Regions from separate parts of the Homo sapiens genome. Here region 1 is linked to region 2. A link means that fine-mapping ties the variant in region 2 to the expression of a gene that starts in the linked region. Tissue or cell type: blood mononuclear cells. Region 2 holds a variant in brackets; the other region holds the start of a gene. All regions are shown on one strand. Distances are from middle to middle. Region 1 holds the start of SELENON (selenoprotein N). Region 2 overlaps MAN1C1 (mannosidase alpha class 1C member 1).

Region 1 (16,104 bases), 69 kb after region 2:
TGTCCACAGCTCACCTGATCACCAAGGGACCACCCCACAGCCTTGACTGGTGCCACCAACTATAGCTCTCAAGGTCCTCCCAGGGGTCATGGAGCCATTTGGATCCCTAATATCTCCCGATCCCCTTAGCCTATCTTTGGAGCAGTCAGGAACTATCTGCCTCCTCTTCCCTTTCATCTGTGTCCACGTGTCCCAGCTGTCTCCTGAGAAATCACTCCTTTCCTCCAGCCCAGTCAGCATGTCTGCCTTCATCATGCTGTAATTTTCCAAAGCTCCAGTGTTTCAAACCGGTGTTTCAAGGCAGTTCACTTGAGGCCAGGAGTCCAAGGCTGCAGTGAGCTATGACTGTGCCCTAGCAAGCCCAGCCTGGGCAACAGAGTGAGACCCTGTCTCAAATAAAATAAAATATAAAATAAAATAATAAAATAAAATACTACTGTTTTCCATGGCTCCGGTGTTAAGCCTTTGTTGTGCTTTAATTTTCCGTGGCTCTAGTGTTTTAAACCAGTCCTATTTCTCCTTGAGTTTTTAAGTGAAACTTTAAAAAAAAATTTTTTTTGAGATATAATGTAGATACAGTAATGTGTAAAATGCACTATTCTTTTTTTTTTTTTTTTTTTTTTGAGACACGATGTCACTCTGTCGCCCAGGCTGGCGTGCAATGGCGCAATCTCAGCTCACTGCAAATTCCGCCTCCCAGGTTTAAGCGATTCTCATGCTTCAGCCTCCCGAGTAGCTGGGACTACAGGACCACACCCGGCTAATTTTTGTATTTTTGGTAGAAACGGGGTTTCACCATGTTAGCCAGGTTGTTCTTGAACTCCTGACCTCAGGTGATCCACCCGCCTCAGCCTCCCAAAGTGTCGGGATTACAGGCGTGAGCCATTGCACCCAGCCTAAAACGCACTATTCTTAAATGACCAGCTCAAGGAATGTTGACCTATATGCACGCTCATATGACCACCTCCCCAGTCAAGATCAAGACTATTCCAGCACCCAGAAGGCTTGCATGTGCTGCTTCTAGTCAATACCTGCCATCCCCAGAGCAAACCCTATGTGGACCTCTTTCACCATCACCTAATTTCAGGCACAGACATTTCATTCTTTTCATGGTTTTTTGCATTATAAACATTCCACTGAGGCTGGGTATAGTGGCTCACACCTGTAATCCCAGCACTTTGGGAGGTCAAGGCGGGAGGCTGGCTTGAGGCCAGGAGTTCAAGGCTGCAGTGAGCTATGATCATGCCATAGCACTGCAGCCAGGGCAACAGAGTGAGACCCCATCTCAAAATAAAATAGGCTGGGTATAGTGGCTCACAACCATAATCCCAGCACTTTCGGAGGCCGAGGTGGGCGGATCACCTGAGGTCAGGAGTTAGAGACCAGCCTGGCCAACATGGTGAAACCCCATCTCTACTAAACATACAAAAATTAGCCGGGTGTGGTGGCAGGCGCCTGTAATCCCAGCTACTCGGGAGGCTGAGGTGGGAGGCTCTCTTGAGCCCAGGAGGCAGAGGTAAGAGGATCAGTTGAGCCTGGGAGGCAGAGATTGCAGTGAGCTGAAGTTGCACCACTGTACTCCAGCCAGGGTGACAGTGAGACCTTGTCTCAAAAAAAAAAAAAAATCCTCTGCATTTTCTGTCTTAATTTATATGATACAACTTATAACCACTTAGCTCCTGTCTAATAAGGATGCTCACACTTTCTTGTCTGGTCATTATGAAGCCCTCTTGTACCCATTTGTGGTAAAAAAAAAAAAAACCTCTGAAGTGCACAACCAAGATCAGAGATGATGAAATAAAGCCTCTCAGATGCAAGCTGAGCTATGCCTCTCCCTTGTTTGGGTGACTAGCTCATCCCAGTTAGGGCTTTCTTGCTTGTAGGACCGAATATCCCACATCCTCGGTGCTCCATCAGTGTCAGTCCTGAGCAGACCAGGGTGGCTGACCCCCCAGCACGGTTCCCTCCTTGGCCCTGGACCCAGTTCAAAACACACAAGACAAGTGGAACAGAATTCAGGCCAGATCATCCGGTACCATCTGCCTGTGCCTGACACTCACCGTTGGAAAGGCCCCGAATGTCAAACTCTTTTTTGTGGCTTGTGTGTGGAACTTGGCCGTCTTTACATTTTCTCCCTCAAAATCACTGGAGAGCTGGTAAAAATGTCCCTCTTTCCCCCAACCAACTGGGGGTTGGCCCCAAGCATTGGTCTCCTTCAAAGGCCCCAGGTGACTAGTGGGCAGCCAGGCTGGGTAACCAGGACCTCTGCACTCGTGATGCTGAGACTAAATCTGTCCATCTGGCAAAGTCCCGGGGGCATTTACTGACCCCGGGAAACAAATCTCTCTCCCAGCCTGGACAGTACGAGAGCCAAGCCAAGCCTGTCATGACCTCTAACGTTAATCTATTTTTTGGCTAATCACAGCCACAGCTCCATGCCTGTAAATCCAGCCAAAGCCACTCAACATTCCAAGACACGGCGGCATCTGTGGCCACATAGGCCAAAGGCGGCTTCTCTTCTCTCTCTTCAATGATCTCATTGAATCTTGTGGCTTTAAGTGCCATTTTTAGACTGGCAACTCCCAGATTTATAATCCACGCCCCCCTTCCCTACCGTTCATAGCCCCATAGTCATACACACACAACTGCCTCCTTGACACCTCCGTGAGGGTGACTCTCAGGCATCTTTTTTTTTTTTTTTGAGCTGGAGTCTCCCTCTATCACCAGGCTGGAGTGCAGTGGTGTGATCTTGGCTCACTGCAACCTCAGCCTTCCAGGTTCAAGCGATTCTCCTGCCTCAGCCTCCCGAGTAGCTGGGACTACAGGCGTGCGCCACCACGCCCAGCTAATTTTTTGTATTTTTAGTAAAGATGGGGTTTCACCATGTTGGCCAGGATGGTCTCGACCTCCTGACCTCATGATCCGCCCACCCCAGCATCCCAAAGTGCTGGGATTATAGGCGTGAGCCACCACGCCCAGCCAGCTCTCAGGCATCTTAACCTGGCAGACTGGACCAAGCCTTCTCCCCAGCCGGGGTCCCTCCAGGGTGCCTCATCTCAGGATGGTGCCACCAGCTACCCAAGCTCAACCCATGGCTGATGCTGGTCTTTCCTCTTGCCGTCCACTTCTGACCCATCCGCAAATCCTGTCTGTGGCTCTGCTACACTCATATATCTTGTCCACGCCTGCCCAATCCCTGCCATCTTATGTCTGGGCGACTGCATTAGCCTCCTGTCTCCCTCCTTCCTCTGTCCATCCCCTAACTCTATTCTCTACCCAGAAACCAGAAAGATCTTTAAACAAACATCAAAACCAAGAGGCTTTACTGGGATATCATTTACATGCCATAAAATCCACCCACTTCAAAGATGGACAATTCATGTTTTTTTAGTATATCACAGAATTGTGCAAGCATCATTATAATCTAATTTTAGAACATTTTATCACCCCAGAAGAAACTTTGTACCCATTAGCAGTTACTCCCCAGCCCCCTCCTCCCGGTCTCCCACTATAGCCCCAGGCAACTGCTAATTTAGTTTCTGTCTCTCTGGATCTGTGGATTCTGGACATTTCACTGAATGAATCACACAAGCCGTGGTCTTTGTGTTTGGCTTTTTCCACCCAGCTTAAAGTTGCTAAGGTTTATTATTGCCCACTAATACTTATCAAATGGATACACCGCATTGTTTATCCATTCATTGCTGGAAATTTGGGTTGTTTCTGCATCTGGGCTATGAGAAAGGTCTTTTAAAAAACAAGTCACCAGCCGAGTGCGGTGGCTCACTCCTGTAATCCCAGCACTTTGGGAGGCCGAGGTAGGCGGATCACTTGAGGTCAGGAGTTTGAGCCCAGCTTGGCCAATATGGTGAAACCCTGTCTCTACTAAAAATACAAAAAGTAGCCAGGCTCGGTGGCCGGCACCTGTAATCCCAGCTACTCTGGAGGCTGAGGCAGGAGAATTGCTTGAATCCGGGAGGCGGAGGTTTCAGTGAGCCTAGATCGCGCCACTACACTCCAGCCTGAGCGACAAGAGCAAGATTCCATCTCAAAAACAAACAAACTAACAAAAAACCAAGTCACACATTGTCACCACCCTGCTTAACACCTTATAATGGTTTCACATCATATCTAGAATGAAGTTTGACCAAGTGCCGTGACTCACACCTGTGGTCCCAGCTACTTGATAGTCTGGGGTGGAAGGATGCTTTGAGCCCAGGAGTTCAACGTTGCAGTGAACTGAGATCGTGCCACTGCACTGCAGCCTGGGGGACAGAGTGAGACCCTGTCTCAATAAATAAATTGAATGAAGTTTGTTGCCGAGGCCTGCAAGATTCCGACGTCCTGTCCCAGCCTCTGTCACCAAGCTTTTCTCTTCCCATAACTCACTCTGCCTTCTGTGTGTCTCCTGGACATACCAAGCTTGTTTCCACCCCAGGCCTTTGCACCGGCTCTCCCCTCTTCTCCGTGCCTGGGACGCTCCTTCCTCGATTCTTCTCATAGCTGGCTGCTTCTTCCCGTTCCAGGCGCAGTGTATGTGTCACCTCCCAGCTACGGTGCTGATGCCTGCCTGTGGCACTGTGCCACAGTGCCCTGTCTCACTCCTTCACACTTACCTTTCTCTGAAATTACCTTGTGTGTCTGTCATTTCCTTCCTCCGAGTAGAATATTCAGCCCCCACAGAGGAAGTGCCTTGCCCGTCTTCTATAATACTGTGTTCCCAGGGCTGAGAACAGTCCCTGGCACACAGCAGGTATTTAGTTTGCGGAGAGGCCCACGTGGTCCGGGCATGCTTAAGCAACTCCTGCAGTGGCACCTGTTTCCCCCAAGTGATCCTTTGTTCTCAAATGTTGGTCCTATTATTGGCTGCCAAGATGTTAGGGTTGGGTTTGGGGAAAATCACTTGCCTCTCTAGGGTCCCAGATGAAGAGAAGAAACACAAAAAACAAAGCCAAATGGCCCTCTTCCTGGCTCACTGTCGCCGGTGAAACTGGAATGGAAAATCCTAATTTGATTTGATTCCCTGGAGGGCAGCAGCGCCCCCTGCGGGAAGAAGGCCTTTCCTGGTGAGTTTACCCCAAAGAGACAGGAAGCAGAAGAGAGGATGCTACTAGGAGGCAGGCAGGGATGTGTGTGTGTGTGTGTGTGCGCGCGCGCGCGTGTGCGTGTGTGTGTGCGCGCGTGTGTGTGCGCGCGTGTGTGTGTGTGTGTAGGAGAGAGAAAGAGAGAGAGACACACACACATCAGGGGTGTGTGTGTGTGTAGGAGAGAGAGAGAGACACCAGGATTCGAGGCAGTGACCCTGCCCCTACTTAAATGTGGCTGCAGGCAGGTCAGGCTCCCTCCTCTTCTCATGGGTGGATGGAGTGGCCTGGAGTGCTTACACCAACACCCTCTGCGCAGGGAGGTGGGTGTGGGTGCCCCCAGGCAGAAGCTGGGACCCAGTAGGGAGTCTGAAGGGTGCTGCAGTGGCTGAATGTCCCTCTCTTCTGATGCCTCCACATTGTCTCAGTGGTAAAGTCCAGGCTTTTCACAAGCTGGCCAGCGTGCCAGCCCAACCTTCCTGCCTCCTCCTCCTCCCTCTTCACACTTCCCCCCCGGGTCCCTCTGCTCAAATCCACTGGACTATATTCTCGAGACGCTACGGATACTCCATCGAGTTTCACATCACTGGGCCTTCACCTCTGCTGTTCCCACCCTCTGGAATGATCTTCCTGGGTGCTATGCCTGGTGAGCTCCTGAAGTCAAGGTCTGGCCAGACCTCTGCTCTGGGAAGCCTCTTCTGAGCCCTCCTGATAGTCAGGGGGACCCTCCTCTGTGCACACCCCTCTCAGAGCACTTACCCCTCGAGAGGAGGGTTGCAGTATCCATTGACTCATCTGGAAGAGCAGAGACTGTTTTGTTTTCTGATGGACACCCAATCGCCAGGACACGGCATAGTAGCCCTTCAATACATGTGTTGGAAGGATGAATGAGCGAGTGCCCACTAACCTCCGAGACCCTCATGGACGTGGCCAGTGCGTCACTCACCTTGCTGTGGTTCCCATTGGCTGCCAGTTCCCAAGTGTCACCCTTGCCCACTGGGAGGCAATAGCAAGGTGCCAAAGAGATCCTGCAGGGCTGCCCCAGCCAGAACCACCCACTAGGCCCTATCTCTCACGGCCTTGCCCTGCCGGGGATCTTGGTTTGGGACAAGCCCTTCTGGGAAGGGCGCCCTCCAGTGGGAAACCAGCCCTGCTCCACTGCCAGTCCCAGAGCTGACACCTCCCAGAGCTGACATCTCCCAGAGCTGGGCCCAAGATTGATCCTTTTCACAGAGGCACACTGATCTGACCTGATTGTCATTAACCCACCCCCACTGTGCGCCTTCCCGAGCTTCTAGAATCATCCCCCAAGTCCCGCAAGCCCCAGAAACCCATTTCTTCAGCACTGGGCAGCAGAGACCAGTGGGGTATCTGTATCTTTAAGAAAAAGCAAGTGTAATAAATAAAAGTTATCTGGGAAAGAAAACTTCCTTTGTTTATTTTCCAGAAGCCTTAGCTCATCAATCTTCCCCTCCTAACCTGCTTTGTGCTCTACTAGTTTTGCTTCCAATAGAATAGAATTTGGTTTTCTAGTATCATGTATCGTACACAGGGTGTCCCCAAACAGTAGCAATAATGAGTTGAAAGTGGCACAGTTGGAAGCCTTCAGAAGCCAACGCCAGATGTCAGGCTCTCAGTGGGTCCCTCTAAGGACACTGGGGCCAGAGCACAGGGCAAGGGTTGGGTGGGCCCACAACTCTGGAAGGTCCCTGGGAGTCATTCATCTGACAGACACTGAGGAGTGCCCACGATGTGCCACGCCCTGTGTGGGCTCTGGGAAGGCCTCACCTGGTGCTGCCATGGCTGGCCACCAAAGAAGAACAGGATGGGCAGTGGAGGCAGGACCCCACCCCCAACTCAGTCGACCGGGTCATCCCGTGGGAAGCCTGGGAGGCAGGATGGCAGGAGATTTGGACCCATAGACCTGGGTGCCAGAGGTCAGGCTTCTTCATTTGAAAACCAGGGAAGCAGTCTCTACCTCACAAGGTGGCTTGAGAACAGAGTGAGAGAATGTGTAAATCACCCCACCTGAAGTCCAGCACATGGGCAGAGCTCAGCATCCTTTGGATCCCTCAGGCCTGACAGGTGCCCCTGCGCTGGGGGGGTTGGTGGGGCTCTGCAAAGGCAGGCACTGCTCACCTCTGGGCTCAGAATTCTTGTCTAGAGGCTTCTGCAGCTGCCACCCTCGCCTGAGAAAATGCAGGTAGAGACATCTAGAGCCACCCCATGGTAACTGGGGGCTTTGAAAGAATGGAAGAGAGCCCCAAGGAACCAAGGTCCTGGGGATTGACAGGCATGAAAATATGTCCTCAACACCACCCACCCCTATTTCCAAGGCCCTCCTCCAAGCATGCCGCATGCTGTTCTCCAGAAAAGCCAGGGCCTCTGGTAGCTCCAGCTGCTGAGGGGCTGGAGCCTCGCCTTCCCCTCACCAGACCAGAGCCCGGAGGGTGGGGGTTGGGGGGCTCTTTTAACTCCTTGGTGGAGATGAGGAAATTTGGGCCCAGGGAAGTGCAGGTTCAGAGCTGCACCTGCTGTGCCTGGAACAAGGCCAATCCCCATAACCCATGCATCTGCGGAGGTGGCCCCCCAACTGCACATGAGGGGAACAGGGGCTGGGCTTTCTTTTTAATTTGTCTTGCTCTAGATGACAGAGGAACTTTTAGAAAACTGGTGGGATAAGGATGGACGGATGCCCCTCAGCAGTCTCTGGCCTCGTGCCCGGCTGCCAGCAGAGGAGGACACGAGGCCTCAGAGGCCCCCGACGCCCCTTCTCCAGGAAAGCACAGGGTGTGTGGCTTCTCCCCAGCCCCTTCTTTGTCCCAGTCCCCAGTCTGGAATCGCTCTCTGGGCTGGGCCAGGCAAGTGGGCCGCAGAGGCCTGGCTTAGCTTTGGGAACGGAAGCACGGGAAGGGGCGCGGAGAGGCAGGAAGCGGCCTGGGGAGGCTGGGGTGGCCGGGACTACGGACCCGACCGCATAGACGCGATCAGCCCCTCTTGGCGTTCCGGTGTAGCTGACCCCGCCCCGGGCTCTGGCCGGGCTGCGAAGCCGGGAACCAGCGACCCCCCGCCCAGCCCCTGCGGCCGCCCCGCCCCTCCCCGCCCCGGCCGCCCCGCCCCCGGCCCCGCCCCGCTCTTTCGCTTCCCGGGCCGCCGGCAGCCGCCGCCAGCCGCAGCCATGGGCCGGGCCCGGCCGGGCCAACGCGGGCCGCCCAGCCCCGGCCCCGCCGCGCAGCCTCCCGCGCCACCGCGCCGCCGCGCCCGTTCCCTGGCGCTGCTCGGAGCCCTGCTGGCCGCCGCCGCTGCCGCCGCCGTCCGGGTCTGCGCCCGCCACGCCGAGGCCCAGGCGGCCGCGCGGCAGGTCCGGGCCCGAGCTGGCTGGGGCGGGAGCGCGGGAGCGGGGACTGAAGGACCCAGCCTCGGCAGCAGGGGGGACATGGGCATGGACGAGTCGGGGGAGGCGGAGGGCGGAGGGGGACTGGACGGGAGGGAGCACGGGAAGGAGGGGACACGGGAGGCGGGTGGGGGGTGCCTGGGGCCGGGCTGATGGGGGGAAGGCGAACGGAGGCCAGTGTGGGGCTGGGACAGACTGGAGGGGTCTCTATCCAGAGGGGTGACCTGGACACAGTGAAGCTGGTTCCCGCAGAGTCTTAAAGGGTTACTGGGGAGCCCTGGGACAGTGAGGAGGGGACACAGGAGAGGACAGAAGGTGCAGGAGGAACAGGGCCAAGCAGCCAGGGCCAGGCGGAAGGCGGAGTGGGGACAAACTGGGAGGGGGCAGTCGGACCAGACAGTGGATGAGCAGGGACCAGGAGGGACTGGAGGCTCTGGGGCAGTTCAGAGGCAACATTTGCACAGATGGACCGGGAGGCACTGGGAGAGCTCAGGAAGATGGTGGGAGAAGGGGCTCCATGCGGAAGCAACTGCCTGTTGGGGACCAGGAGACCAGGCCGCCAAATGGTGCCCAGCCCAGTCTCTCCTCCCAAGCAGGAACTGGCGCTGAAGACCCTGGGGACAGATGGCCTTTTTCTCTTTTCCTCCTTGGACACTGACGGGGATATGTACATCAGCCCTGAGGAGTTCAAACCCATTGCTGAGAAGCTAACAGGTACCAGGAGAGACTGGCGGCTGGGGAGGAGGGCGCCTTGGCCAACGGTGTCTTCACTGAGCAGGAGCGGCCGTCTGGAGTGGAGGGAAGCTCGTGGGATCTCAGAGGCCCTGGACTCCTCCCAGCTCTGACACTTTGTAGCTGGTGGCTTGGGCGAGCTGCTCCAGCAACCCCTGAGCCTGTTTTTCTCAGACTTGTGAGCAATAATACCAGCTAACATTCTTTGGTCTGCGAGGTAGCTCACGCCTGTAATCCCAACACTTTGGGAGATGGAAGGATCGCTTGAGCCCAGGAGTTCAAGACCAGCCTGGTCAACATGGCAAAACCCCATCCCTACAAAAATACAAAAATTAGCCGGGTGTGGTGGTGCACACCTGTAGTCCCAGCTACTTGGGAGGCTGAGGTGGGAGGATCACTAGAGGCCATGAGGCAGAGGTTGCAGTGAGTTGACATCACACCACTGCACTCCAGCCTGGGCGACAGAGTGAGACCCTGTCTCAAAACAAACAAACAAAGCAAAACCAAAAAAACAAAAAAACCATTCCTTGGCCACCTCCTCCGTGCCAGGTATTTAAGTATTTCATGTGGGTTCTCTCTTTAAACCTCACAGTAGCCCTGGGAGATGGACACTGTCATGATCCCCATGTTTAATAGTCTGAGAGACTAAGGCACAGGCAGGCTCCCCAGTTTCCCAAGCTAGAAAGGTGCGGAGCCAGGGCTAGAACTGGGGCCATCTGGCTTCAGGGTCCTGCACCAGCTCACAGGTTTCAGTAGAGAAAAGAAATGCACAGTGACGAATATGCAGTAGATTTCCAATAGACAGCAGCTATAACTTTTTTTTTTTTTTTGAGACAGGGTCTTGTTCTGTCACCCAGACTGGAGTGCAGTGGTGCAGTCACAGCTCACTGCAGCCTCAACTTCCCTGGCTCAATTGATCCTCCTGCCTCAGCCTCCTGAGTAAGTGGGACCACAGGCATGTGCTACCACGCCCAGCTGATTTTTCTATTTTTGTAGAGATGCAGTCTCACTACGTTGCCTAGGCTGGTCTCAAATTCCTGGGCTCAAACGATCCTCTTACCTTGGCCTCCCAAAGTGCTGGAATTACAGGTGTGAACCACCGCACCCAGCCAGGAGCTATAACTATCATTACTAAATCTGAAACTTTGCTTAGGTGCTTTCAGATTTCTATTCCATTCTTTGTTGTTGTTGTTGTTGAGATGGAGTCTTCCTCTGTCACCTAGACTGGAGTGCAGTGACATAATCTCAGCTCACTGCAGCTTCTGCCTCCCTGGTTCAAGCAATTCCCCTGCCTCAGCCTTCCCAGGAGCTGGGATTACAGGCACCTACCACCATGCCGGGCTGATTTTGTATTTTTAGTAGAGACGGGGTTTTGCCTTGTTAGCTAGGCTGGTCTCGAACTCCTGACCTCAAGAGATCTGCCCGCCTCAGCCTCCCAAAGTGCTGGGATTACAGGCGTGAGCCACTGTGCCCGGCCTCCTATTCCATTCTTGCTATCATTTTTGCCTAGTGCAGTCAGTGATTATTTATTTATTTATTTGGTTAAAGATGAGGGGCTGAAACATTCTAATGAATTATAAAACGCTTCTCTCGCTGCCCCACCACCACCCTAACCTCTGTGCCCATTTTCTTCCAACTTCTTGTGACGTTTCTTGAACTTAGGATCTTGGACACCTACTTATTACCCAGATTGCCTGGTGTAAGTCAGTCATTGATGGGAAAGGCAAGAGAGACATGCTGGCTGTTTCGGGTGCATAAGCTTCAAAGCGCTGTCACTAGCCTGCTGTTTTTCAGGGGTGTATTGTGTAGGTTGGTTCCGTGCTGGCCCGGTGACCTGTGATCACTGCTAGAGGAGGAAGGTTGGATGAAAAATGCTAATGAGCTGGAGTGGATGTGTATCAATGTCTCTCAGTGGCAGGCAGTTCTGTCATGAAAGCAGATGGGCAGATAAACAGGTCGTCCCCTTGTGGCCTTGCCTGTACTTCTTGTTTTGCATACACTTCTGCGCATTTGCACAGCTACCTCTTTGTCCTTTTTTGTGGCCAGAGTGAGAGTTCTCTCATAATGACATGTTAGCAAAGCTTGAGGTGCACTTTTAATTTTTTGCACAGAAATCTTTTTCTCCATCAGGGTAAAAGAATTCCCCCATTACCTCTAGGCTGTGAATGCAAAAATGGACCAAGTATTGAGAAATCAAAGGGCAGGGGGAATCAAATCCAAGCAGGAAATAGAGCCAACTAGTTCTATTTGGTAGAGTTATGAGAGTGTTTAATTTTCTGCCTTATCCCTTAAAATTTTTACAAATTACCTATAATGGGCAAATGTTACTCATAAGTCAGGAAATAAAACTTTTTATTAAAAAGCCAAAGGGCTGTAAAATGCTGAGTAGTAGTATTATAATTAATAACATTATTACCAACTCCATTTGACAAATGAGAAAGCAAAGGCTCAGAGAGGTGAAGTCCCTTCCCCAGATCATACAGCTAGGTGGTGGGGGCATCATCATTATTATTGGTTTTTGTTTTTTTTGTTTTTTTGTTTTTTTTTTTGAGATGGAGTCTTGCTCTGTCACCCAGGCTGGAGTGCTCGGCTCACTGCAACCTCTGCCTCCCAGGTTCAAGCAATTCTCCTGTCTCAGCCTCCAGAGTAGCTGGGCTGGGATTACAGGGGTGCACCACCATGCCCAGCTAATTTTGGCATTTTTAGTAGAGACGGGGTTTCATCATGTTGGCCAAGCTGGTCTCAAACTCCTAACCTCAGGTGATCCGCCTGCTTCGGCTTCCCAAAGTGCTGGGATTACAGGCATGAGCTGCCTTGGGAATCATTATTATTAATATTTATCTGTGATATCAGTAAAATAATTGAATAAGCAAGGCTTACTAATAACCCTGCATATTCCTGTTGCTCCCTTCTTCTTGGGTTTCTAGATTGCGTTTTGGAAAGTTTTACCTCATTGACTTACAAATACAGAAATAAGTGATTCTTCAGAATAGGGATTTGGATCAGGAGCAGCAGGGAGTGCTCATTAAAAGGGCAGATTCCAGACTCTCACCCCTGCAGATTCTCATTCAGTAGGTCTGAGGTGGGTTGTGAGCATCTGTAGTTTAAAGGCATCCTGGGTGATTTTGAGGACTTCTGGTTGAGAACTGCTTTAATGCATCATTCAGCCTGCTAGCCAGTCAGTCAGCAAATGCCAGGCATCATCTCTGTACCACTACCCTGCCCTGAGAGGGCAGACAGGGCAAGACCCACCCCCGCCCTCCGCTGGCTACACTTTGTTACTGGTGACTATTACTCACCCCTTTTGAAATAGGCGTCATTTGTCCCTTAGCCTTTCAAAATGAATCCTTCTATACTGGGAAGGTTATAGACTTGCCAGATCTCTGAGCAGGAAAAGATCCAAGAAATCAAATCCAGCCACACTGCCAGTCCAGCCCCTCCTACAGCTGGGGCAATGCCCCCCCCGCCCCCCCCCCCCCGCCGCAAAAAAAAAAAAAGCAGGGGAAAGTGGGTCTCCTCACTCTCAAACCAGTGCTCTCCCTATGACACCAAAGAGCCTGTTTCTGTTTCTTGCTTCATTCATTACTCCGGTTCCCTTGACTGAGTTCCTCTCAGTCCCAGAAGACCTAGAAAAGGGTCGTGGTTGGTCATGGGTTTCGAGTAAACAGGCCTGGGTTTCAATCCCGATTCCCCCACCATCTAGCTATGTGACCTGGGGAAGTGACTTTACCTCTCTGAACACTTTCTCATTTGTCAAATGGAGTTGGTAATGTTATTATCTGCCTCCCTGGGCTATCCTGAAACTAAAATGCGATACACTGGTTGTTACTTTGGTGACTGTTAACACCCCAGCTACCCCCACCCCCTGCCTGGCTCCGTTAATCACCAGCTAGTGTGGATGATGAGGGAGAGGTGAGCCCTGTAGCATAAGGGCAGTGCCTCTCCGATGTCTGTGTCTCATAGGGTCAACTCCCGCGGCCAGCTGCGAGGAGGAGGAGTTGCCCCCTGACCCTAGCGAGGAGACGCTCACCATAGAAGCCCGATTCCAGCCTCTGCTCCCGGAGACCATGACCAAGAGCAAAGATGGCTTCCTAGGGGTGAGTTGGGGACCACAGGCAGTGGGGTCATCTGTGTGTATCCCGAAGATGAGTTTCTGCTCCATTCATCCATCTTTCCTCTGCCCTCTGTGTGCCCACTAGAGCCAGGCCCTGGAGGTCCATGTGCGGTGATGTTGTCCCTGCTGTCCAGGCATACAGCCTGCTGGGGGAGCAGGAGAGAGAAGCATTAGCTTCTGCCCCAGACTGGGGAATCTGGGATAGCTTCCTAGAGGAAGTGACATCTGGTAGACTGCAGGATGAGGAGGGCTCAGCAGGGTGACTGAGCACAGGTTGGGGGGGTCTCGGAGGAAGCAGCAGTGCAGTAGAGACCCTGTTAGTGCAGCCGCCCCACATACTATGATGATTATTTCCCACACACTATGATGATTACTTCCCACACATCCATCTCTTCCCCACGGGGCATAGCATGATGCCTGGCTCCTGATAGGTACTCTGTTGAACTCTGATGATCTAGACCTGAGGTTTGGTCCCCAGCAGAGGGCTGTGGGGTGGGGAGGGCACCTGAGAAGGTGGAGGTAGGAGGTGGACAGATGCTCTCCTTGCCAGCCCCTCCCCAACCCAAGGCCCTTTGGACAGGGTCCTGAGCGCATTGCAGGATGAAGCTGCCTCAGCCCCTGCCTGCCCTTTTGCACTCTCTCCCACTCTCTCCTCCCCTCTGTGGGCTTCCTCTGTTCCAACCACACCAGACTTCCTTCCTTCCAAATCCCCAGGCTTTCTTCCAACTGGGAGCCTTCTCACATGTGGTTCCCTCTGCCAGGAACACTGCCTCTCTGTGCCCAGCCCACACAGCCCGACCCAGCCTTTTCATCTCAGCCAATGCCACTTCAGCACGAACAGAGGCCTGAAGGCAGGAGTGCCAGGCTGGTCACTGAGGCCAGGCAGTGGGTGTGTCTGGGCCCAGGGGGCATGCAGGACCCACACAGGGGCATCCCAATCAGTGGGGCCAGGAGAGAAGGTGCCAGACCCCACCAAGGGCTTTGTTGCCTGCCTTTGGCCTTCATTCTATGGTGGCTGAATATCGTGCAGATTTTAAATAAGACAGCTTTCTCATCAGACCTGGGCTCTCCAGGCCAGGGACGGGGCATGTGTAGAATGGGGAGAAGTGGGAGGCAAGAAGACCAGTTCTGGAGGGGAGACGGAGGAGATGGAGAGTAAGGGCAGCCTGGAGGATGCTGGGGAAGGAAGGGCAGGGAGCGGCTCCTCATGGACAGTGGGTGGGCAGGAGTTGGATGACTCAGGCTTCTGGCTGTGACCAGGGGCATGGTGGGCTGCTTGCCCAGATGGGGACTGTAGGCGGGGAGGGAGTAGGGGATAGAGAATGAGGTCAGTCTGCACATGTTGAAGTTGAGGTCCCCAGGGGATGTTGGATGTCTGCTGCCCAGCAGCAGCCCCTTGGCAGTGCCCAACTCTAGAGCCTGGCAGCCACATGGCAAAAGAAACTTGGGAATGACCTTGAGGCTGGCACCTGTGGCGGAATTGCCACCTGGCCCAGCCCAGGGAAGCAGTGCTGGGGAGCCCCTTTCTTTTTTTTTTTTTTTTTTTTGGGACGGAGTCTCGCTCTGTCGCCCAGGCTGGAGTGCAGTGGCGCGATCTCTGCTCACTGCAAGCTCCGCCTCCCGGGTTCAAGCTATTCTCCTGCTTCAGCCTCCCGAGTAGCTGGGACTACAGGTGCCCACCACCACACCCGGCTAATTTCTTTGTATTTTTAGTAGAGACGGGGTTTCACCATGTTGACCAGGATGGTTTCAATCTCCTGACCTCGTGATCCACCTGCCTCGGCCTCCCGAATTATAGGCGTACAGGGATTATAGGGATTACAGGTGTGAGCCACCATGCCCGGCCGGGAGCCCCTTTCTTAACCTCATCGCTGCAGGTTCAGGGAGGGACAGAAATTCCAAGGAGGAGCTCACAGGGAAGGGCATTGCCCGTTTTGGGTCCTGTTTACTTGCCGTCTCCCACTATAAGCTCCAAGAAGACAGGGTGCACAGTGTACCCTGATAGAAACTTCCTATACAGTAGGTGCATAAAACATTTTGTGGAATGAACAAATGAATAAACGTGTTCTTCTCAGCCAAGGAGACAGTGCAGCAGATAGGCAGGAGTCCAGGAAGTGGTCAAAACCGGTCTGACCTTCCACAAAAGGAGATGGGGAACCCATCTCCATGGATTTGGCAGTGATGGGCTGGTCTGAGCAGATAAGTCCGCACAGACAACAAGAACTGGGGTGAGGCAGGAGCAGCACCCCTAGCCCTGGCCCCCGAGCAGAGCCCCAGCAAGCCCAGCACCCATCGCTGGCAGGTCCCCTGCAGGGGGTGGCAAGCCTACAAGCAGGACCCAGGAAGGCGGGCTCGGCCTGGCCCGGCACAGCCAGCTCTGCCTTGAGAACCGCCTGTTAAATCTGTCTCTGTGGGAGCTCCCTGCCTGCTTTCCTCCTACCTCCCACCAAGCCTGAGCTCCTGCTGCCAGGGAGGTGGCGACAGAAGAGGGAATCTGCTGTTCCCCAAATGCTGGCCGACGTGTAGACAGCTCTGTGGTCTCTGAGCGTCCTCTCCGAGCCATCAGCTTGTCAGACAGAGGCGAGGCAGGTCACCGATGAGGACTCGGGCTTAGGGAAGGCCTTTTGCCCAGGGTGGGGCAGGCTGTACTTAAGGCAGGGCCCTTCTGGGGGTGGCCTTCCTTCCCCTTCCCTGTGGTCTCATCCTGCTCTTGACCCTAGAGATTTCACCTCAAACATGATTGGCCACCACCCTCATCGGACTTAGCTCCAAACCGAAACCCT
Region 2 (16,104 bases):
GTGTATTTGTCCATCTCTCGTGTTAGGTTTCCCTTAAATGTTTGTGGCTCCTTGGCTGTGTCTTCAAGTTAAATGTGGGGCAGAAGAGAAGATGGTTGTGGATCTGTGTGGTGAGTGGGCTCTGCTGACTGATAATCCCAGTAGGATAATCCAATGGGAACTCAATATAGGTGTTTGTTCTCTAGAGCTAGTCTGGTTCTGCATAGAAAATGTTTTCATTCTCCTACCTAGCAAATGGACTCCTGATCACAGCCTTCTGATTGTGACCTGTCTTTTCTGTGGAAGCTTGTAGGGCGTACTCTTTGTCCTCAATGTTTCATGACATATATACCTCAGTGTAGTATTTCATGACAATATACCTCAGTGTAGGTCTCTTTTCATTCACTGTGCCGGGAAATTAATGGACCTTCTGAGATCCATGTGGGCAAGAGGGCAAAGGTGGGCAATCCAAAAATCTTCACTTACCGCCTCTGCTCCCAGGATGGCACCCTGTGCCTCAGCCAGGCATCAAGAGGCCCTCTGTCGTACTCCTTTCTGAGACTCTGCCTCTGGTTTTCTGCTGGGATGAGAGGAAACATTTTCTTGGCAGAAGTAGGAAGAGAATCTAGGGATCTTACTGCCTTTAGGCTGACTTGCAACAAGCCCTCCTCTTATTTCACTTCCAGAGATACCTGGTGTTGCCACCAATCCCAGAGCCTTTGGGGTTTTCTAGCACAAACCTGAGTGCCTGTTTGCTTGCATCATCATGGCTTAGGGTTCGGCTTTCTTGGCTTTGCTGAGTCAGCACTCCACATCTCTTTCCCAGCTGCCAAACTTTGTTACTATCATCTTCTTCCCTGGTTGTTCTATCTTTGTGGATTGATGCATTATTTAAAAAATTATACCGTTGTCTTAGTGGAGTTTCTGGGTGGAAATAGGGCTAGTGCATTCATTGAACTCACAATCTTTAACCACGATCTCTGGCTCTTCTGTTGGGTTCCCTGAGCCTCAACATCATCATCTGTAGAGTGGGACAAAAGATCCCTTTCCTGATGTCTGCCCAGGAGACTTTGTGAAGATTAGATGGGTTTTTGCATAAAGATTTACCATTCAAACAGCGGGATGTATGACTGTCTGTTCTAAGTGGTGCTTGGACTAAAGGATTGAGGGGTACCCTCTAGAGGCTGGGACTGGAGAAAAGGCCAGCCTGGGCTGCGGGATACTGTATCAGTTACAAACAACCACAGACCTCACTGGCATGCAGCAATAAGTGTTTAGGTAACTCAGGAGTCTTCAGAGTTCACCTGATCCAGGCTGGGCAGGCCAAACGACTGCCTACCTTTTTTTTTTTTTTTTTTTGAAACAGAGTTTTGCTCTTGTTGCCCAGGCTGGAGTGCAGTGGCACAATCTCGGCTCGCTGCAACCTCCGCCTCCCGGGTTCAAGCGATTCTCCTGCCTCAGCCTCCAGAGTAGCTGAGACTACAGGTGCACGCCACCACGCCCGGCTAATTTTTGTATTTTTAATAGAGATGGGGTTTCACCTTGTTGGCCAAGATGTTCTCGATCTCCTGATCTTGTGATCCGCCCACCTGGCCTCCCAAAGTCCTGGGATTACAGGCATGAGCCATCACGCCTAGCCTATGACTGCAGATCTTGACTGGGCTCACCCTTGTGCCTGGGGGCAGCTGACTGTCGGATGATCTAAGAGATCCTTGGCTTGGACAACTGGGCCAACTGAGCTCTGTTCCACGCATCTCTGCATCTCAGCTCTAGTTCATATGTATTCCCATGGAGGTGGCAAAAGGACAAGAAAGCAAGCAGAAACATGCAAGTGCTTTTTCAAGCCTCTGCGTGTGTCACATTTGCTCTCATTGGCTGAAGTTAGCCACACGTGTCTGAGCCCAGAGGAAGAGAGTGGGGAGAGGCATCCTACTCAGTGCAAAGGACATGAATGCAGGAAGGGGTAAGGAATTGGGACCATTGGTGCAAACTCTACCATGAGTGTCTAGGCATGGCTCCGGAACAGAGCACACCCCAGCCTCGATTATTTTCCTGCAAACACAGAATATTTTGCCTAAACAAGGAACCTGGGGTTCTGCCACCCTGATTTGCATTCAGTTAAAAGAGCTAATCCTTTACTTGCTACTGGAAGAAATGCTGCCCATCTCTAAAACAATCAGACATGATCTCTCTGATAGAGTAGTACACTCTCCAGGCCCAGGCTGGAGCTGTAGATCACAGGCAACCGATGAAATTTGCTTAATTATTTGATTCAATCAGAAGTTGGCTTAATTATTTTCTTGCTCTCACCTCTTTTGAATCCATTCTGGAAACTGATTATGTCTATAACACCAACCCAGAGATAAGCATTTCAATTGGGAAATGTAATTAGCCAAGGAAAATGAATGTGGGAGCTGCCTTTTGTCAAAGCACCATTAAAACCCAGCTCTGGTCAATACCAATGTGGTGTGAAGACAAAAGGCTCAGTTTGCTCCTCTTGTGACTGGAGAGGGAAGGCCCAGCAGGAGGTGGGAAAATAGGTATCTTGGGATCTTAGCAAAAGGAAGCTCATTAATTCATTCATTCAGAGGCTTTTCTAGGCCAGCTCTGGGATGGATGCTAGAGATGCAAAGGTGCACTGGCCACGTCCCTTGCCTCGAAAGAGTTCTCTTCTTAGAGGAGGGATTCACACGTAATTATGTGGTCAAAGTGCTACGGGAATACAGAGGAAGGAGCCACTGATTCTGCCTCTGGGAACTTCACAGAGCAGGTTACGTTGAGCTGGGCTTTGAAGAATAAGCTGGAGTCTCCCAGGTGAGGAGGGCATTCTAGGTAAAGGGCACAGCACGTGCAAGGGCATGGTGGCGTGAGAGTACAGGAGTACTTGTTAGGGGTCCACTAGAGCAAGCCTGCTGAGGGCTTCTTGGGTTATCCTAGCTCCTCCTAGAATAAAGTGTCCTTGGGCCATCCCACCTCAACTTTTCAGTGCCTGGGGATCCTGCCTCGCCTCCCACTTTGCCCTCTAGATGGCATTATTAAGGATTCTCTCCCAGTGTTTGTTTTAATGGAAGTCGAAGGCGTGTGGCATTTGAGGGAGACTGCGCCATCTGAAAGCCGGGGGCTGGGTTCAAGGCACCTGAGAACAACAGATGCACATGGTAGAGCTGAAGAATGAGAGGGTGCTCGGGGCAGAAGGTCCATCCTGGGCTGAGGCTCAGCGGTACGGCATGCTGAGCTGAGTGTGGCTGTGGCATGAAATGAAAGGTGAGGCTTTCATCTGAGTGAGCTGCCCAGCTGGGCATGGGCTGGATCACAAAGGGCCATTTACAGGCCATTGCAGACCAGCTCCTTGGCCTTGGCCTCTATGATGGGGGACTCTCTTAACACTGCTCCGACTGTAGCCCCTCTCCTGCAAGTCTTCACTTCTTCAAAAGAGGTCAGTGCTCAGAGCAGTGGTCTCTGGTTTGCTTGGATCTCTGCCTAAGGCAGAGCTTGTCTGGAATGCAGTGAGGTGGAGAGGTTATCTGACCAGGTGGCTCCTGCACCTGGGGAAAGGGAAAGGGAGGGAGGACCACCACGACCACGGTCTCCAGGGCCACGGCAAGGTAGACCCACCAAACCTCTGCCCAACTCGTTCCTATTTACCTTAACCCTTAGCCATCCTTACAAGGAAGAATTCAGCCAAGAGTGACCAGGCACTAATAGAAGCTGCCAGGCCCTGCCTCCCTCTGAGACACACAGCCACTGACTACCAGATCCCATCCAATGTCATCCATGTACACACACTTCGTAATGGGGTGTGGTGACCAGCATGTGTGCATTTTATACCCTGCTTTTTTGCTTGGTAGGATCTTGAAGCCTCATCATCTGCCTTCCCCAGGTGGGCCCCATCTCACCTGTGAGGCCGCTGGTGTGGGGAGAGAGCACAAGTACAGTAGGCATTCGGGCCATGGTTCCTGCTTATTTGCTGTGCAGCTTTGGACAAGCTTCTTAGCTTTCTGAGCCTCAGTTTTGTCATCTGGAAATGGAGATAATATAACCACCTACACTGCAGTATAATTATGAAGATTAAGAGTATAAAATTCTCAGCCAGGCATGATGGCTCACGTCTGTAATCCCATCACTGCGGGAGGCCAAGGTGGGAGGATCACTTAAGTTCAGGAGTGTGAGACCAACCTGGGCAATACAGTGAGACCTCATCTCTATTAAAAAAAAAAAAAAAAAGCCAACTGCGGTGGCATGTGTCTGTACTCCTAGCTATTCAGGAGGTTGAGGTGTGAGGATGGCTTGAACCTGGGAAGTGGAGGTTGCAGTGAGCTGAAAGTGCGCCACTGCATTCCAGCTTGGTTGACAGAGCAAGACCCTGTTTCCAAAAAAAAAAGTAAAATTCTTGGTTTAGGTTTTGGCATGAAGGCTGTATTAGACACATAACCATGATGATCATGGAGGCTGCTAGACCCAGCTCAGATTACTACCCAGTGGACTAGCTGGATGACCTTAGGCACTAGTCATTTAAATTCCTCCTCTGTGAACCGGGTTTAACAACACTGCTCAGGGTGGGGATAAGGAACAAACAGACTAAGTCCTGCCTGTGGATAGACTTTGGAAATGGATACTTCATGTCCTTGTCGTAGTCCAGGGCACTGGTGGTATTTCCTCTGCCAGGTGATTTGAGAACTCCTCACGGGTCCCCAGTGAGAGGCGGTGAGCGACTGTGTGAAGGAATGAGACAGCATGGGAGGTGGAGGAGGTTGGTGTCTGCACCCACCCTGCCCGAGAACGGGACAGTGGGGGATACGTGCAGGACAAAATGGCCTTGCCCCCGACTCCAGGCTCCAGAGGCTGGGGGTGAGCATTCTCTACCCCCATCCCAAAGCTATGGCAGAGGAACCCTGCAGCAAAAGGACACGGAGTGCCCATGGTATTCTGTGTGAAAGTCACTGAGGCCAGAGACAGCTCTTCACATCCTGTGTTGCTCAGGCCTTCCCCACCCTGTCCCCCTGTGGGGTCTCAGCCCCAGTTCTGGGCAGGGAGTGTGGGATGCTTAGGAGCGGGGTACAGGCTGAGCCTCAGCCACCCTCACGGGAATCCATCCTGGGCCCCTGGCCCTGGCCAGACAAGCTGGCAGATTGCCCAGCCACATCCAAAGGCAATGCATGCTCTGAGCACAGAGCCTGGCCGAGGACACCAGAGAGCAGGAGAGCGTGGGGGCCGTGCAGACACATGACAAGGCTTTGATAACACAGTCTACCTGCCATGTCTGAAAAATCAGGCGTGCGTCTTCCTGGCAGGGAATGCAGTTTCCTGTTAATGAGTTGTGAGAGGTTGGAACAAGTTATCAGAGAGAGGCTGGGAGGACTGCTTCCCGGGGCAGCTTCCAGGAGATGGAAGCCAGGCCCCAGCCTCCTCCCTTTGGGCGGCTCAGCTATTTGAGGAGCATCTCTCAAAGGGCTGAACTAAAGCCTGGAGTGAGAGTCCCCAGCCTAGGCCAGGACCTGCTGGTGGATCTTGAGCCCCTGCTGCGAGCTTCTCCGGGCCTTAGCTGCTGCACTCCCCTGCCTCAGCAGGGACTGGCCGGAGTCCCCTCCCCTCTGCAACCTCGGGTTCTCAGAGGGACCAAAGCCAGTAACCCCATGACAGACGGATCTCTGTGGTTCCTCGCTGCTTGCAAAGCACTCACACTTGTCATCGTATTAGGCACTCACAACAATCTGTTTGAGAGAAACAGGCTCAGGGAGGTGAAGTGCTCAAGGTCATTCTGCCTGGTGGGTCTGTTTAGGGTAATGCTGGCTGCTGTGACAGATAAACCCAGAGACTTCAGTGCTTGGAGACAACAGACATTTCTTTCTTGCTCATGTAAAGTCATATTGATGGTGGGGAGAGCTCTGTTCCCTCTGATGACTCAGGCACTCAGGGTGATGGAGGCGCCATCATCTTCAGGTTGTAACACCCAAGATTGCCTCGGCCTTGGAATATCCATGAATGGTTTTTATGGGCCAGGCCTCAAAGTGGTGTATGGAGCCTATGCCCACACCCCATTGGGTCCTGCGGCTCCACCTAGATGCAGAAAGGCTGGGAAACGCAGTGCCTGCCTGGGCGGCTATTTCCCTTCAACGGCTCTGTCTAAGGAAGGGGAACTGGTGCAGAATCGTTGCTGGCACAGTAGAGGATATTACCCTCAAATAAAGGCTGGGGACCCCTAGTGAGAGTTTGGTCACCTAGGCGTCAACAAGTGCCCAGTGTGGTCTGAGACCTGGAAGAAGACTCGCTGTGTGGCTCTGACCCCAGAAGGATTCTGGATCTCCAAATGCTGTTCCAGCCTTCTCGGCAGCCTCTTGCCCCTTCGTTAGCTTCTAATGTACATGGTTTGCTCATGGCCCAGCCCTGAGACACCCCTCTGTGGCTCCTCATGGCCCTCAACATAGAGACCAAACCCCTTGGCCTGCATTTGAAGTCTTTCCCAGGATGGCTCCAGCTGACTGGCCACATTGCTCCCCTTATTCCCTCCCCCGAAACCTATGCTCCTCCCTGACCAGCTTCCTACCTCAGGGCCTTTGCACATGCTGTGCTCTCTGCCTGGAATGTCCCCCCTGTTGCTCTCCACCCTGCGGGTTCCTGCTCATCCTTCCCGATCCATCACAGGTCCATGAGGCTTCCTGAGCAGAGTTAGCCACTCGGCCAGCATTTATTGAGAGCTTACTGTGTACCAGGCACTGCAATAAAAGCTTCCCAGGAATTAACTCATTGAGCTCCCAAGCCTACAAGGCAGGCGTCCCATTTTCTTTTTCTTCTTTTTTTTTTTTTTGAGATGGTGTCTCGCTCTGTTGCCCAGGCTGGAGTGCAATGATGTGATCTAGTTCTGTCACCCAGGCTGGAGTGCAATGGCATGATCTCGGCTCACTGCAACCTCTGCCTCCAGGGTTCAAGCAATTCTCCTGCCTCAGCCTCCCGAGTAGCTGGGACTACAGGCGCCCACCACCACGCCCAGCTAATTTTTATATTTTTAATAGAGACAGGGTGTCACCATGTTGGCCAGGATAGTCTCCATCTCTTGACCTCATGATCTGCCCACCTCGGTCTCCCAAAGTGTTGGGATTACAGGCATGAGCCCCCGTGCCTGGCCAGGCATCCCATTTTCTAGATGAGGAACCCAGGTCTGTGAGGAGTGTGTGTGAGGTCACACAGCTGCAGAGTGGCAAAGTCAAATTCCAAACCCAGGTCCCCGTGGCTCACAGCCAGGCCTTAACAGCTGCATAAACTTCCACCTATTCTTAGCACCTGTCACAAGGCTTCATAATCATTCATTTACTTGCTGTTTTGCTGGGAAATTGCTTACTGTCTTTCTGAGAAAGCAGCTGCAGCCTCCGTAAGGACAGAGGTCAGGCCTGATGCATCCTAGAATCTTCCTCACCACTGTCCCCACCAGCACCAAGGCCAAGGTCTGGGTGGTGATTTCCTCTCAGATAAATCCCTTACCCTTTGAGAACCAGAAAGAGAAATTCCTCAGATTATGGTCTGTCATAATCCCCTCCCTGCTTCCCTGTCAGTTTTTGACAGTTACCCTGAAACCGTTTTAAAATGATCTCAGAGGCAGAGACTGGCCTTCTCCACGCATGATTAAGCACGATGGCTTTTTAATGATTTGAGCTGTGCCTTCTGTGAATTGACAAAAATGGATTACCATATATTTCTGAAAGCCACACTGCCAAAATCAGATTTTTTTTTTTTTTTAGTTTTCTCAGCCATCCTCGAAAACCTTAGCTGAGAATGACAAATACTAGGGGCTTTAATTGTTCAGTCACATGAGGGTGGTGCCTCCTGAGTTCTGAGAACTGCTCTCGCCAGGAAAGCCTTGAAATGCTCCTGGGCTTCGATCTTTAGGAAATTGAACTGTGTGTTTTCTCTGAAGCGGAGAGCTGTCTCCTGGGCCGTGGCACGTTTGCTGCATTTGTGAATTGTTTGGGCACTGAGGTCTGAAACAGAGGCAGTTCTTGCCCCAGAAGCATGCTCAGGGCTGTCACGACTGGATGAGGCCTGGCTTGGCTGTGGGTGGGTGGACAGGGCAAGCGGGGAGGGGGTTCTCCCTGTGTGGGCACTTCCTCCTCCTTTTCACTCTCCTGCCAGACTCTGTTCATGGAGTCCTGCACCCTTCACCTGATTCAGGCCACCCACATCTGCGACAGGGTTATTGCTAGTACCTTGGACAGATGCAGACTCGCTGCTGGCTCAGAGAGGTTA[A/C]GTCATTTGGCTGTGGTCACAGGCTGGTAAGCCACAGAGCCAAGGCACATGGTTTGACCACAAGCCTGTGCTTCCCCCACAATCGCTGCTGCTTTAAAAAAATCAAATGAGGCCAGGCCTGGTGGCTCATGCCTGTAATCCCAGCACTTTGGGAGGTCGAGGTGGACAGACCGCCTGAGCCCAGGAGTTTGAGACCAGCCTGGGCAACATGGCGAAACCCCGTCTGTACAAAAAAATTAGCCAGGCGTGGTGGCATGCTCATGTAGTCCAGCTACTCAGGAGGCTGAGGTGGGAGGATCACGTGAGCCCAGGGAAGTCAAGGCTGCAGTGAGCTGTGATCGTGCCACTGCACTGCAGCTTGGACAACAGAGTGAGACCCTGACTCAAAAAATAACAATAATCATCATCATCGTCATCATCATCATCATCATCATCATCATCATCATCAAATGAGAGGCAACTCATAGGTATCCTCTGTAGTCCATTTACATTTAAGGAAAACAAACCTCATTGTGTATCCACTAGCATCAGTGGCTTCAGTCGTCTACATTATCTGCATTTCACAGAGGAGGATGTTGAGGCTCATGAGATAAGGTAGCTGACCAGAAGTCACACAGCTAGTAATAGGACAATTATGATTTTATTCTAAGTCTACCTGATTCCAAAGTTTCTGCCCTACTCTGTCCTTTGTAGGAATCTGTCTCAGGCTCCTTCCTCCCTCTCTAACACAGGTAAGTCTGGCAAGGGGAAGCCTGAGTGGCTTCTGTGAGGTTCTGGAAGGGGCCTGTGGACCAAAGAAAAGGGAGGCCCTTGGTCTATAGGAGTGTGGGCTGGTCTCCTCTTTACTGATGCTGGGAGTAAACCAGATGGATTCGTCATGGCCTGATGGAGAGAAGGCCACCTGTCTGGCCTGTGGTCATGTGTGCTCTCGGCTCCTGCTCTGTTCTATGTCAGGGTTAATTTACTATATATTTACTCCAAACCTACCATGCACCTGGCATCACACTAGGCTCTTTGGTGGCTCCAAAGATGCATCTGGCAGGATCTCTTCCTTCCAGGGCTACCATCTGTCAGAGAAAAAGACCAACTCAGACCCTCCTATGAGTGAGCCTGGGCCAGGGGATCAGTGGTGGGGCCCAGAATGGTGTAGGTAAGAAGAGCCATCCCTCGAGGGCATCTGGGGGGGCTCCTGCAGAGGGTGCCCAGGCTCCTAGGGAGAGGCGGCAGCTCTCTGCAAGGTAGTGCCTGCTGCAGGGGGGCCTTGCTCCAGCCCAGAGGTGGGAGATAGGGTCAGGCTAAGCCACAGGCCTTCAGGAGGTAGCCTGTGGTCTCAAAGCCAAGAGTACTTCCCTGGGACCTTCTTGGACCCTCCAAACCAGGCCCAGTCTCCCAAGTTGTGCAGGAATGGAATGGCACAGCAGTGAAGGGCAGAGCAACCAGGGAAGATGGCCAGAGTTGAGTCCTGGCTCCCTGTTCATCAGCCCTGGGAGGTTTAGATGATTCTCTAAGCCTCAGTTTCCCCATCTGTAAAACAGGGGCAGGAATTGCACCCTCCTCCTCAGGTGTTGTGAGACTTAAAAGAGGTGCTGTCTGTGGTGCGCTCAGCAACATGGTGTCGGCCTTCACGCAGGTTTGCGTCTGCGGCGTCCGGCATTTTGCATGATCTCTAGCCCTCAGGATGGTTTGCAAGGTGGAGGTCTTGCTCCCACTGTGGAGGATGAGGAAACTGAGGCAGCTAGTAAGTGGTGGATCCAAGCGTGGGTTTCCAGGACTCAACCCATTCTGCTGGCCCACTGCCTGCAGCTAAGCTATCCCAGCAACTACAAAGACCCTCCCTGGGGCTCAGCTCCCTACCAGGCTCTCCTGGCACTGCCTCTGCTATCTCTTAATGTTTTACAGGGGTGAATGGGACCTCTTTGATTTCCTTTCTTTTCTCCTTTCCAATAATCATCATTAATCTTGTTATCAGAGCCATGCATCTGCACCTCTTGGCTGTGGTCCACAGGCCGTGTTTGCCATGATCAATGCATAGCTCTGTGTGGCCACAATGTATACCCAAGACAGCACTGCAACCCTGTGTCCGTGGGCCTGGGAGGCTCTGGCACTGTCAAAGACAGCTGGAGGCTCCCCCAGGAGCTGAGGTGAGGCACCTGGCTCACATGCCCTGTGGTCTTGTTGAATTCTTGTTCCTGGACTGGTAAACAGCTACCCCCACAGCTGGGGAGCATCTCCAGCTGCCTTCACAGGGTCTCAAAGCACAGACCCAGGTGCTCCTGCCCCCGTCCTCCTCATCCGTAAGTGCCTAGAGGACAATTCACCAAACCAAGATGGGTAGCTCTGGAGTCCCGTTGGGCCCAGCCACTCATCATACAGCAGCCAGTCAGATCCAGTTCCTAAGCCATCCAGACCCCCTTTCTTGAAGCCCCAGGGCCATGTGTGATCTGGCCTCCACCCCCTCACTGCCCACTACTTTCCCCCTTTCCCGCTGCACACAACCTTTATCTTGGGATTTTCAATGTGCTGTGCATTCTGCCCGCCGTGCCCTTGGCCCCTTTCTCCTGGGCCTCCTTCAAGCCTCTGCCCGAACGCTGCCCATCTCCTGGCTGTGCTCCCCCGCCACACCTAAATGGAGCTCCTCCTTAGCCACTCTGTTTTTCTGCATCACACACGTTACATTTAGATGTGTCTCTGTGTGTCTTTCCCCTCATTCCACTAGGCTCCAGTGCCAGGCACACCCCGAGTACCCAAAAAATACATTTGGGATGAATGAATGAATGAATCTTGAACAAGTGACTTAATTCCTCTAAGCCTCAATCTTCGTCTGTAAGAGGGGGACAATGAGTTTTTATTTTGTTTATTTATTTATTTATTATTTTTATTTTTATTTTTTTTTGAGACGGAGTCTTTCTCTGTCGCCCAGGCTGGAGTGCAGTGGTGTGATCTTGGCTTGCTGCAAGCTCCGCCTCCCGTGCTCACGCCATTCTCCTGCCTCTGCCTCCTGAGTAGCTGGGACTACAGGCGCCCGCCACCACGCCCGGCTAATTTTTTATATTTTTAGTAGAGATGGGGTTTCACCGTGTTAGCCAGGATGGTCTTGATCTCCTGACCTCGTGATCCGCCCACCTCGGCCTCCCAAGGTGCTGGGATTACAGGCGTGAGCCACTGCGCCCAGCCGAGCTTTTATTTTTTTGATTTTTAATTTATTTTAATTTATTTATTTTTGAGACAGAGTCTCTCTCTGTCACCCAGGCTGGAGTGCAGTAGCGCAATCACGGCTCACTGCAACCTCCACCTCATGGGTTCAAGCGATTCTCATGCCACACCCTCCTAAGTAGCTAGGACTACAGGTGTGCACCACCATGCCCAGCTGACTTTTGTATTTTTAGTAGAGATGGGGTTTCACCATGTTGGCCAGGCTGGTCTCGAACTCCTGGCCTCAAATGATCCACCCACCTCAGCCTTTCAAAGTACTGGGATTACTGGCATGAGCCACTGCACCTGGCCCAATGATAGAGTTTTTAAAAGATGGATGTGAAACAAACAGCACAGTGCCAGGCAAAAAAGGATTGTTCTTAACTTCTGATAAGGAAGGGTTGGCTGGCATTTAGAATTCCACATTCCACAAGAAGCTTTTGTGGGGGTGTCCACCCTGGGCTAGGATCTCAGAGCCTCATGGAGTCAGTGTCTGGCTCCCAGCACCTCACACCACAGAGGAATTGCCTCTGGCCAGGGCACTGGCTGTCTAGGTGGCCTCCTCACATAGAGGCAGTGCAGGGAGGGTGTCCAATCCTTCACTCCGCAGATCCCAAAGGCACCTTGACCCTGCAGGGTCTGTGTAGGCTTAAATCAACCAGGCTTAGATCTAGCCATGAAGACACTCCCTGCCTGGAATGGACTTGAGAAAAGGACACAAATTACTGTAATAGAAGTTGAGAAACAATGCCTTTGATATAAACGTTCAGAGGAGAAAAACCTCAGATCCACGTGGGAGAGTCAGGGATGTCTTCACGGAGGAAGAAACATTTTATCTAGAAGTTAAAGTAGACATTGGATTGAGACGTGTGGGGACATTGTGTGTTAGAAGAGGGCATGCCAGGTAGAGAAAACAGCTTGAAGAAAGGGCTGGAGGCTGGAGAGAGTGGGCCACATGGAAGCAGTAGTTTGCCTAGAATGTGGAACACATGAAAAGACGATTAAGACATAGGCGGCCAGTCGCGGTGGCTCACGCCTGTTATCCCAGGCCTGTCTCGTGGGAGACCGAGACAGGTGGATCACTTGAGGCCAGGAGTTTGAGACAAGCCTGGCCAACATGGCGAATCCCCACCTCTGCCAAAAACACAAAAATTAGCCGGGCATGCTGACGCATGCCTGTAATCCCAGCTACTTGGGAGGCTGAGGCAATGAGAATCACTTGAACCCAGGAGGTGGAGATTGCAGTGAGCAGAGATCACACCACTGCACTCCATCCTGTGTGACAGAGCGAGACTGTGTCTCAAAATGTGTATGTATGTATGTGTATGTATATATATATGTGTGTATCTATATATGTGTATGTATATATGTGTGTATATGTGTGTATGTATGTGTGTGTATATATATGTGTATGTATATGTGTATGTATATATGTATATATATGACATAGGACTGTAAGAACATTGTATCAGTCATCTATTTCCATAATAGGGTTGTATTATAACAAAGTATTCCACAGTGAGAGGCAGACCACAGTGTTGTTTGTGACTGCAGATAGGCTGGAATTTGGTTTATCTAGGCTGCATCTAGCTAGATCCAAGTCTGCTCTGCACATATCTCATCCTTCCTGGACCAGTGGCCATTTGAGGTTCATTCTTCTCATGGTGAAGGGTGGGAGCCTAACGGAGCAAGCCCAGCCATGCAAGCATGTTTCAGATCATGTCCTCTAATCCCTGTGGCAAGTCTCATGGCCAAACGTAAGATCAAGGGCAGAGTTTAATTCCCCACCCACTATGAAGCCAAAGCAAGTTACATGGAAAAGCACAAGGTTAATGGGATAGGGATATTTACTCCTCCCAAGGAGGGAGAGGGAAGGAGTGAAGATTTGTTGAACAACCATCTAATTTCCCCAGGCAAGTAGAGGCCAGAGTGTGAAGGGTCTCTGTGTCTGCTGTTAGGAGCTGACCAGAGCAGTAGCTGGACTTTGATGTCTGGTGGGATGAGCGGCAAAGGGCTCTGATTTTTGCCCTTCTCCCCATTGAGGCAAAGAGAGTACTGCAGTCCTATTGGGTAGTTAAAATGCCCCAGTCCCTGCCCAGCTCTGTCCTGACTTCCCCATGGCTCACACTTTCTGCTTGCCTGGCACAAAGGTAGTACCTTCTCTGCTGGGCCAATCATCTGCCAGGGCTCTTAGCTTTGCCAAGCCTGAGGGTGACTTTCTCTGCTGGAACTGAACCTTGTGATAACAGCCCCATGCATTGAGTACCTACTGGTATGCTGGGTGTGTCATATTCTCCTGTAGTGAGTGCCTGCTGAGTGCTGGACAGTGTATGGGGGTTCTTTATATGTATTCTTCCAAACTCATCACCATACCACCCTAAAAGGGAGACCTCATTGTCCCATTTTACTTTGTTTAATTTTTGTTTTTGCAGCAGGGTCTTGCTCTGTCGCCCAGGCTGGAGTGCAGTGGCGCCATCACAGCTCACTGCAGCCTCTACCTCCTGGGCTCAAGCAATCTTCCCACCTCAGCCTCCCAAGTAGCTGGGGCCACAGGCACATGCCCCTATGTCTGGCAAATTTTTGCATTTTTTGTAGAGACAGGGTTTTGCCATGTCGCCTAAGCTGGTCTTGAACTCCCGGGCTCAAGCGATCCACCTACCTAAGCCTCCCAAAGTGTTGTAATTACATGCCTGAGCCACTGCACCCCGGCTCATTATCCCATTTCACTGAGGGTGCAAGAGGTCAAGTCAGTTGCCCAAGCTCACACAGCAAGGATGGATGAGGCTGAGATCAGAACCGGGTCTGTTTGGCTTCAAAGCCCACGCTGTCTTCCCTATCCAGGCCTCGCAGGAAACATAAAGTTCACGTGCTCTGGAAGGTGGCTTCTGGTCACAGCTCTGCCCTGAGTTTTGTGACTTTGGAGATATCACTCCAGAATTCTGGGCTTCAGTTTTGAGATGAAAGCAGTTCAGAGCTTGCTCTACAGCACGGTCAGAGGGAGTTTTTAAACACAGGTTTCCAGATCAGACAGCACCCTCAGCTCTTATTTAAAAACAAACATTAACATTTTACAAACACACCCTGTTTTCCAATGAGGAGCTGTGTCCAGCAGACTGCTTCAGTGAACTGTGTCCAGCCACTTGTCACAGGGAACCTTCTCCAGCCATTGGCTGCAGTAATCATTCTCCAGCCAGCTGTGGCAGCAAAGCGTGGCATCTGCTCAGGAAGGGTGGAGGAAGCCATTAGTTCCACCAGGGCCCTGACGTCTGTGGCTGCCCATTTCGCCCCCCCGACAGGGATTTCCTTGGTAGCTGGCCACTACTGTGTGTGCTGTGTCTTCTCCGAGTCCCAGGGGCCTGGTAAAGTGTTGGAGAGCCCCAAGAAAGAGCTGTTGGCATTTCCAATCGCCATTCATTCATTCATTCAACAACCACTCGTTTCTGCCTTCTCTGTGCCCAGCCTGAGGATGGATGCTGGGGCCACTGGGAAATGTTAGACCCAGCCACTGCACCCTGGGATTCACAGGCACCTATGCAGAGACATACAATATCGTGTACACAGTGCTGGGACAAAGTCACATGCAGCAGAGTTGGTGGGCATCAATGGGCATGGTCAGTTCTGCTTGGTGGCTCAGGAACGTCTTGGGAAAAGGCTGAATGTATGAGCCAAGGCCAGAAAGATGAGTAGGTGTTTACCGAGCCATCTCTGCAAAGGAAGGCATCCCAGGCAGAGGGACCCATATCAGCAGGCACGCCAGGGAGTCTGAGGAGCTGCTGGTGGTCTGATGTGGGTCAAGCATCACTTTGCAAAGAGAGCAGGACAAGAGGTGAGGCTGGAGAACTTGCCACGGCTGGGACCATGGGTTCTGCACGCTGTGTCCAGGAGTTTGAACTTGGAGAACTGAGGCAGGGGTGAGGTTGAGGGCTGTTAAACAGGGCGGTGATGTGATCATTATGCTCATCTTTCATGTATCAGCCTCCAGTAAGAGCATTCTATTGGGTTCCAGGAAGAATCCCTAAAAAATATCTTTCCTTCCAGAGGCTTCAAGAAACCTTTGCCTGGAAATATTCAGCCTCAGAGCACAGTGCTATGTCACCCAGGAAATAGCTATCATGGGAAAATTCAAGGAAAATATTCCTGCTCAAGGAAAAAAAATTAAAACACGACACACGAGAAACAGACCAGATAGAAATGGAGAGGTCCCAGTCCGTAAATGGGTTTTATGCCGCCAGAAGACCTCATCATATTAGACGATCTGGTTTTAAACAATAAACTTTGGGTAATGGGGATGTCACTTTAATTCATCTTCCTAAAAAACCCATGTGGCAAAAACATTCCAGTTGCTATTGCTACATTGCAAATTACTCCAAAACTTGGGGGCTTAAAACAATTATTTTATTATGCTCACAGATTGAGTGGGTCAGTAATTCAGAAAGGGCACAACAGGGGACAGCTTGTCTCTGTGCAGTCATGTATAGACCCTCAGCTGGGAAGGCTTGAAGGCTGAGGCTGACTCGACAGCTGGGTGGTAGTATTATCTGGAAGCTTTTTGAGTCATGCGTTGCAATTGATGCTGGCTGTTGGCTAGAACCTCAGATGGGACTGTCAGTCAGAAAACTGATACATGGCTCTCTACATGTTTTCTCCTTGAGAGCTAGCTATCTTGGGCTTCCTTACAGTATGGTGGCTGGTTCC

Evidence for each region. PIP is the estimated chance that this variant, and not a neighbour inherited with it, causes the effect.
Region 1: SELENON starts here. The variant in region 2 is fine-mapped to the expression of SELENON in blood mononuclear cells (TOPMed, PIP above 0.99). The same link has a PIP of 0.9 or more in whole blood.

What each region holds. Positions count from the first base shown.
Region 1 is chr1:25,791,972-25,808,075 of GRCh38, forward strand. SELENON (selenoprotein N) reads left to right here and starts at 8,222. Exons shown (of 12, transcript NM_206926.2): 1 at 8,222-8,442; 2 at 9,072-9,189; 3 at 13,171-13,304. The coding sequence starts at 8,260. RefSeq lists an enhancer at 7,416-8,137 and a silencer at 7,947-8,086.
Region 2 is chr1:25,722,708-25,738,811 of GRCh38, forward strand. The region is part of intron 2 of MAN1C1 (mannosidase alpha class 1C member 1); the gene reads left to right. Among named protein-coding and RNA genes, the nearest start is that of SELENON, 69 kb to the right of the region's middle. RefSeq lists a silencer at 657-857 and enhancers at 1,489-1,989, 2,075-2,718. The variant A/C (reference allele first, on the strand shown) is at 8,218.